Regions from separate parts of the Homo sapiens genome. Here regions 1 and 2 are each linked to region 3. The links come from fine-mapping of genetic effects on gene expression. A gene starts in region 3. Each other region holds a variant in brackets. All regions are shown on one strand. Distances are between the middles of the regions.

The links. PIP is the estimated chance that this variant, and not a neighbour inherited with it, causes the effect. A credible set is the group of variants that fine-mapping cannot tell apart.
Region 1: its variant is the best candidate, but not a certain one, in a credible set for the expression of HELLS in whole blood (TOPMed, PIP 0.57).
Region 2: its variant is the best candidate, but not a certain one, in a credible set for the expression of HELLS in whole blood (INTERVAL, PIP 0.87).

What each region holds. Positions count from the first base shown.
Region 1 is chr10:94,350,014-94,352,778 of GRCh38, forward strand. NOC3L (NOC3 like DNA replication regulator) reads right to left here. Exons shown (of 21, transcript NM_022451.11): 8 at 2,297-2,390; 9 at 100-275. Among named protein-coding and RNA genes, the nearest start is that of NOC3L, 12 kb to the right of the region's middle. The variant T/C (reference allele first, on the strand shown) is at 1,042.
Region 2 is chr10:94,571,104-94,573,868 of GRCh38, forward strand. It overlaps HELLS (helicase, lymphoid specific), which reads left to right. Exons shown (of 22, transcript NM_018063.5): 7 at 285-326. Among named protein-coding and RNA genes, the nearest start is that of HELLS, 27 kb to the left of the region's middle. The variant C/T (reference allele first, on the strand shown) is at 1,412.
Region 3 is chr10:94,544,306-94,547,070 of GRCh38, forward strand. It overlaps HELLS (helicase, lymphoid specific), which reads left to right and starts at 1,483. Exons shown (of 22, transcript NM_018063.5): 1 at 1,483-1,647; 2 at 2,072-2,193. The coding sequence starts at 1,617. RefSeq lists enhancers at 539-1,163, 577-626, 1,164-1,788, 1,789-2,412 and a silencer at 1,337-1,416.

The DNA of each region.
Region 1 (2,765 bases), 190 kb before region 3:
TCCCAAAGTGCTGGGATTACAGGTGTGAGCCACCGTGCCTGGCCCACATGGTGTATAATTTTCTAAGGAGGACAGCAATAACCATTTACAGCAACTCACCAATTTTGACATGTCATTCATGAGAGGGACAATCAATACGATGATGTTGTTGTGAAAGTTAAAATGAGGTAGTGCCACCAACAGCTCACACAAGCTCTTCACAGCGACTTCTGCCAGTCCTTTGTATGCCTTTAAGGAAACTACATTACTTTTCTTCAGCTTCCTCTGCTTCCAATCTAATCAAAAGATAACTGTAGTTACTTTACTCATTGGTCAAAAGTTAAACTAATTGGCTTTCTTTTACAATCAATGTACATTTTAACACACATAAACACACACACACACATTCCCACACCCCTTAAAAAAAGACTTCATATGCTGGGCACAGTGGCTCACACCTGTAATCCCAGCACTTTGGGAGGCCAAGGTGGGCAGATCACGAGCTCAGGAGATTGAGACCATCTTGACCAACATGGTGAAACCCCATCTCTACTAACATAAAAAAAAAAAAATTAGCCAGGCATGGTGGGTGGCACACGCCTGTAGTCCCAGCTATTCAGGAGGCTGAGGCAGGGGAATCACTTGAACCTGGGAGGCAGAGGTTGCAGTGAGCTGTGACTGCACCACTGCATTCCAGCCTGGCGACAGAGCAAGACATCGTCTCAAAAAAAAAAAAAAAAAAGAAGAAGAAAAAAAGACTTCATAATGGTTCGATCTGCTCAGGAAAGGTCCAATATGGAGGCTACTAACTGCCACATATAGGAGTCAATTGAGCATTTGAAATGCAGCTAATACAAATTAAGATATACTCTAAGTATAAAATACACTCTAAGTATAAAATACAAACCAGATTTGAACTTAGTACTAAAAAAAACTGAGAATGTAAGACATTAATTTTTAAAATTTATTACATGTTGAAATGATAATCTGAATATATATAATATACTATTAAAATTAATTTCATTGCTTTTTAGTGTGTCTGCATTTTTTTTAAATGACATA[T/C]GTGGCTCATGTTATAGTTCTATCAGACAGAGATGGTTGCACAAAGATCCCAGGAGCTTTCCAAACAGTTCAGAAATTCAAAAACAAAAGAAAAACTCCCAGGCCCTCTCACTGGAAGAACAAACACTAATAGGGTGCCAGCTGGAACACCAGAACATAGAAGCAATATCCATACTACCCACCCCCACCCCACTATACTCCACTACCTTTATGCCCTTATTAGGCCAACAGGATTCAGTGGTCCTGTTCCAGCTGACAGCAATGGGTGATCTTAGTAAATAAGCTGGGTAAATGAGCCAATTAGGCCAAATGAAAACACCTGGCCTAGGCAACAACTGTCTTCCCTATTCCTACCCCTATTTTTTCTATGTCCTTCCTTTTCTGAAGAGTTTAAGAGTTTATCATCCCAAATAATTGACTCATAAATCCATTTTCAAGACATGCAAATATCCATTTCTAGTTATCCTTCTATTTATTTATTCATTTCTTTTGAGACAGGGTCTCACTCTATCGCCCAGACTACAGTGCAGTGGCATAATCATAGCTCACCGCAGGCTCAAACTTCTGGACTCAAGTGATCCTCTCAGCTCAGATCTCCAGTAGCTGGGGCTCTATAGGCATGGGCCATCATGCCTAATTTTTTTTTTTTTTTTTTAGAGACAGGAGTCTCACTACATTCCCCAGGCTGGTCTCAAACTCCTAGCTTCGAGCAATCCTCTTGCCTCGGCCTCCAAAAGCACTGGGGTTACAGGTGTGACCCACCACGCCTGGCCTCTAGTTATCCTTCTTCCCTGACTACCATGCCTCCAAATAAAAAACAGCAGAATAAATCCCAACTGTTCATAACAATGTATTTTGTTAAATGCATTGTAGTCAACAAAAATACAACTACTTACTAAAAACTGCAGCAATAATACTAATAATTGATAAAATATAGTGTATAGTACATGCTAGGCACTGTTTAAAGCACCTCATATCTACAAACTCAGTTACTTCTTACAATAATCCTGGAAGGTAAGTACTATAATTATTTCCATTTTTTAGACAGGAAAACTGAGACACAGAAAGACTATGTAATTTTCCCATCACATAGGTAGTAAGTGGTGGAGCCAGGATTTGACCCCTGGAAGTCTGACTCTAGATTCTGTTCCTGACCATACCTGCCTCTCACTACACAACACAGAACACTGTACAGAATTCACCTTCATGATCAAGGCTAAGTATGTTACAAACTTTGAAGATATGTTTAATATACCTTTAACCATTTGTTCCAGATTTTCCAAATAAAACTTGTATTGGCTAACCAGGCCTTCTTCAAATTCTCTTAACTTCTGGGTTTCTTTTCGGGTCTGAAAAGACCAAAAAGGTCAATCATTTTTTAAAATCAGAACATTAAAAGCCCAAAATTAGTATAAAATATGTGTGTCTAGTATACACCCAGTACTATTTAAAAAAACAAAAAACAAAAAACGCGGCAGTCGTTTAGGCCAGGCGTGGTGGCTCATGCCTGTAATCTCAGCACTTTGTGAGGCAGAGGCGGGTAGATCACCTGAGGTCAGGTGTTTGAGACCAGCCTGGCCAACGTGGGGAAACCCCGTCTCTACTAAAAGCACAAAAATTAGCTGGGCCTGGTGGCGCATGCCTGTGATCCCAGCTACTGAGGGGGCTGAGGCAGGAGAATCACTTGAACCCGGAAGGCAGAGGTTGCAGTGAGCCAAGATCAC
Region 2 (2,765 bases), 27 kb after region 3:
TTTGTACTTAATCTACTCAGATTAAAAGAAAGAAAAGCTGGAAAATCACTGTATTTGATGAAATATCCCATTGTATAAGTGTTCCCAAATTAGCCTAGAATGTTATGAAATATTATGAGCCAGTAATGTCTATAGGCTTATTTCTGCCTGAAGGCTACTAGTTTTATCTTGAGAATCTCATCCTCATTTCCTGGCAAAATGAGCACAGAATAAATGCTTGTTGAATAAATAAATAAATGAACTTCATACATTATTAATTTGTTTTTGTTTTCTCAAACTACTAGGAAATTTTGTCTGTGGCTAAAAAAAATAAAAAGGAGAATGAGGTAAGAAATTTATAATGTAAGATTAAGTTTAGAAGTCATATTTACTCCTCAGTTACTAGTCCTTTTTCTTTAATCAGCAGTATACGTTCTTCTCACTATTATCCTGTTTCTTTGCTTTAAAAAAAAATACCTATGTATTCACTTCTTCCATATCCAACATTCTTCTTTTTTATGTATCAACTTTAGTTAGTTGTTTTATTGCATGATTCTTGATGTATAAATGTTAATTTATGGGTCTAGCAATGTTGCTTTTAACTTGTGAATCTGGCAGTGATACAAGTGCTCGTAACCATGTGGATATAAACCGTGAATCATCTTATGGAAGCTGTGAGGGATGCCTTAATCTTGCTTCAGACCTTAAAGATTTTTTAAGTTTCTTAAAAGTTCTGTTTGAGAAGGCTTGATTTCCGAGCCACCTCTTCACTTAGCCCATTTCATGTAGAGAGGTTCCTTGTTATCTGACTTTTTATTGTTCAAGTACTTAAAATTACAAGGTTGCCTAGGGAAGCAAAATAATCATGACATGAAAATATTCATGAATGGATATGAACTTCAGGTAGTTAATTTACATATTAAAGATTTTTAGGCCTTTGGGAAATTAATGTTATGTTTATAAAATGAGAGATAATCTATTTGGTCATATAATTTTGTCCAAAATTTATATTGTAAAAGTGTCTTGGTTTTTATTCTTTGTTAAGTTATTAAGGACTGGTTTATGGGTGCAGTTTAGTTGGATTTTTAAAGATTTAGTTAGATAAACATTTAGTTGGATTTTTAAGATAAAGTCTAGATGTAATCTTCTGTAATTTACTATGGGATTTTGGCTTCATTTTATAACTTACAGTCAGTAAGAAATAGTTGTTAAGTATGGTATTTTAATGAATTTCGACACTTGCATACACTTGTGTAACCACCATCCAAATCAAGGTATAGAACATTTCCATTGTAAAGGGATCTCTTCTATGTCTTTCCACCCCCAAACCCAGAGGAGGCCACTTTTTACACCTTTTATAGGATGGCTTATTATTTCCTTTCCACTCAACATGTCTGTGATACTCATTTATGTTGTTGAGCATATTAGTAAC[C/T]GGTTTCTTCTTATTGACTAGTATTCTGTTGAATGAATGTTACAATTTTCTCATCCATCCCCTTATTGATGGGCATTTGGGTTGTTTGCAGTTTGTGACTTTTATGAGTAAGGTTGCTATGATAATTTGCACACAAGTCCATGTGTAGACATGTTTTCATACTTTCTGCCTGTGTACCTGGGAATGGTATTGTTGTGTTACGTGGCAAATGTGTGTTCATAAGAAAGTACAGATTTTCCCCCCCAAAGTAAACACATCATTTTATTCTCTCGCCAGCAATGTTTGAAAACTCCAGCTTACATTATTGTCAGCATTTGATAGTCTTTTTAATTTCAGCCATTTTATTAGATGAGAAATGGTAACTTGTGTGGTTTTTAACTTGCATTTTCCTAATTACTACTGAAGTAGAGTATATTTTTATGTTCTTTGATAACTATGTTTTCTTTCTTTTTTTTTCTTTTTTGAGATGGAGTGTCACTCTGTCGCCCAGGCTGGAGTGCAATGGCACGATCTCGGCTCACTGTAAACTCTGCCTCCCAGGTTCAAGCGATTCTCCTGCCTCAGCCTCCCAAGTAGCTGGGACAACAGGCTCATGCCACCATGTTCAGCTAATTTTTGTATTTTTAGTAGAGACAGTGTGTCACCATTTTGGCCAGGATGGTTTTGATCACTTGACCTCATGATCTGCCTGCCTTGGCCTCCCAAAATGCTGGGATTACAGGCGTGAGCCACCATGCCCGGCCTGTATGTTTTCTTTTGTAAAGTATCTGTTAATATCTTTTGCCCGTCTTATTTATGCGTACTGTATTTTCTGTGTAACAGTTTAATAAATTATTGAGTATCACAATATTAGAAGTTTGGAAGAGAGATACAATTCTAATGATCTTTTCAAAAGTATGTGCCTGATTTTAATTTGTAAGGGTTATTCTCAGATTTTTATATTTTATTTTATTTTATTTTATTTTATTTTTTGAGATGGAGTCTTCTGTCACCCAGGCTGGAGTGCAGTGGCTGTGTTCATGGCTCACTGCAGCCTTGACTTCCTGGGTTTAAGTGATCCTCAGCCTCCCGAGTAGCTGGGATACAGGCAGTTGCGTGCAACCACACCCAGCTAATTTTTTGTATTTTTAGTAGACACAGGGTTTCGCCATGTTGTCCAGGGTTGTCTTGGATACCTGGACTCAGGTGATCCTCCTGCCTCAGCTTCCCAAAGTGCTGTGATTGTAGGATTAGCCACTGTGGCAGCCTGTTATTTTTTTTTTTAGTAGCTTTTCATTTGTAGAGGGATGGCGATGTCTCCAGTTTTTTAATCCAGGTGTGATCTTAGTCTTCTATACTTAATGATTATAGGACT
Region 3 (2,765 bases):
AACCTAGGAGTTCGAGACCAGTCTAGATAACATGGCGAAAAACCGTCTCTACCAAAAAACAAAAACACACAAAAACCCCAAACCAACAAAAATTAGCCTGGAATGGGCTAATGTCCGACACTAAAATGTCCGGGCGTGGTGGCACGCACCTGTAGTCTCAGCTACTTGCTAGGCTGAGGTGGGAGGATCAACTGAGCCCAGGAGGTGGAGATTGCAGTGAGCAGAGATCGTGCCATTGCACTCCTGCCTGGACGACAGAGTGAGACCCTATCTTAATAAAATAAAATATAGAGACTAGGTTTCGTTTCTATTTTTTATGAGACGGAGTCTCTCCCTGTTGCCCAGGCTGGAGTGCAATGGCGCGATCTCTGCTCACTGCAACCTCTGCCGCCCAGGTTCAGGCGATTCTCCTGCCTCAGCCTCCCGAGTAGCTGGGACTACAGGCGCCTGCCACCGTGCCCGGCTGTTTTGTATTTTTAGTAGAGACAGGGTTTCACCATCTTGGCCAGGCTGGTCTTGAACTCCTGACCTCGTGATCCACCCGCCTTGGGCTCCGAAAGTGCTGGGATTACAGGCGTGAGTCACCGCACCCGGCTTGTAAACTCTTAAATTTTGTATAGACACAATCATACAAGTTGTGGGAGTCAAAATGAAGGAAACGGGTGGTTACATGGTAGGTATATTTAATGCCATACATCTTAAGAAATTGGAGGTGGGAAAGGGAGCCCTGGAGAGGGAGACAAAGGAAATAGTTGAAAAGGAATGCAAACAAGAAAAGGAGGAATTGAAAGCTGAAGTGAAAACCAGGGACAAGAAAAGCTCCGCTCCTTCCTTCACTGCCCACTCGAATGAATGAATCCTGTTTGGTTTCCTGAATCTTCCTTCTGCTGGCCACTCCGCTTGGTCCATCACTTCTTTCAGCTTGCCCTTATCCTAAACAGCTTTCTTTAACCCAGTCATAATCTTAATTTCCTGTTCCTTCTCTCTCCCGTCCCACCCACAAAAAAGCCCTCCTCTTTGTCATTTTGGGGGATTTTTCACTTAAGATGTGAGCCGCGCGCTGCGGGTGCGGCGAGGCTGGCCCTATAAAAATGTTTCTGTTTCTGACATCCTCGTGCAGATACGCAGACGTCTCTACCTACAGGATCATGGGCTAGCGGGTGCTCAATCACAGCAGCCAGCGTTGGAAGGCGCCTTGCAAAGTATTAACAGCACTATCAAACTTTAATTGCGTAGTTCGGAACCAGATATGTGAGGAAACTGGGTTCTCCACGATCGGCCACCTCGCCCAATCTCACAGGATAGTTACAGGCTGAGTTCGGCAGCGGGACCCAGTTTCCTCCTGAGAGAGGTCCAGGTAAAGGTTTACGGTTGCCACAGGTCAGTCCTGACGAAAACCGCAAGCTGCGCCAAATCTCGCGCAGCGGGGCGGGAGGGCGGGTGGGGAATGTAAGGTATCGCGAGATGACAGGATTTTCCCGCGAAGGAGAAGCGCGCTTTTTTCCCTGGCGGGGGATTTGGCTAGAAGGCTGGGCCGGCAGCGGTTGTGAGGAGTTAGCTCGCGGCATTGCAGGCTCTGAGAGGAGGGGACCCGGTTCCCGGGTGAGTGTCCAGGCATGCCAGCGGAACGGCCCGCGGGCAGCGGCGGTGAGTGAGGAAAACCTTTTGGGCGCGGGTGGCAGCCTGCGGGGCTGAGGTGGGCAAGCATGGAGGCTGCGGCGGAGTTTCGGGGAGGGAGCCGACCCCGGGCAGGGACTGAGGAGGAAAGGAGGGTTGGGAAACTGCAACGGTGAGTGGAGGACACCCCGGAATCGCACGTATTAGCATGCCGGTGAAGATTTCACATAGGCAACTGCATTTTCCCGAGCATCCCGAGTTGTAAACTGTGGTCCAGGCGACTTGTAGACATTGTGAAGACTTACGGTGTCTTCTGAGAGGTGATGCTGGCGTCCCCTCGGTCTTCAGCTTTTGCTCCAGTGCATCTCGGGTGGGAGAAAGGCTGTTTCTTGTTGGAGTTGAGTAGTTGGTAATTTTTTTAAAACTGCAATTTGAAAGCTTTCTCCCCCGTCAGGCTCGGAGGCTCCAGCAATGGTTGAACAACTGGACACTGCTGTGATTACCCCGGCCATGCTAGAAGAGGAAGAACAGCTTGAAGCTGCTGGACTAGAGAGAGAGCGGAAGATGCTGGAAAAGGTAATTTAGGCATCAGGTTCGTCGTCGTGAAAGCCTGTGGTAACCTCGGCTTTAACCCGGAGGTGTGGTTTGTGTTCTTTGCTTTCCTATTTAGTGGGCTTTTTAATAACTGAAAGAAAACAGCTTTATTACTTGTCTTTTTTGTATGTTTACAGATATTGCCTTTGAGAATCCTTTCGCAAGTGCTTTGAATGGTGTGTTTCTATGAGATGTAGTCTTGGTAGTCCCATCACTTTTAAATGAGCATTTCAGATTGCTTGTTTAGCCATGAAAAGTCTTTCAAAGTCCATAGTGAGTTTTTTCGTTTGTCATCCTTATTTCCTTTAAAAATTACCTTAAATGTATGTCTCATGGCAAACAGGAATCGCTAAAACCTGCAGAAGTAATGTACTAGACTGAGGGCAGGAGAAGTTAGCATCAATCAAAGGCTGGGCTGGAATCCAAGTCTAATGATTTCCTTATACTGTAGTGCTGTTTTCCACCTAAGTGATCAACTTGCTGTTTGTTTTTCTTTTGGTTTCATGGCCTGTGTATTGCTACATAAGATTCTTTAGCTAAAAATGTGCCGTACT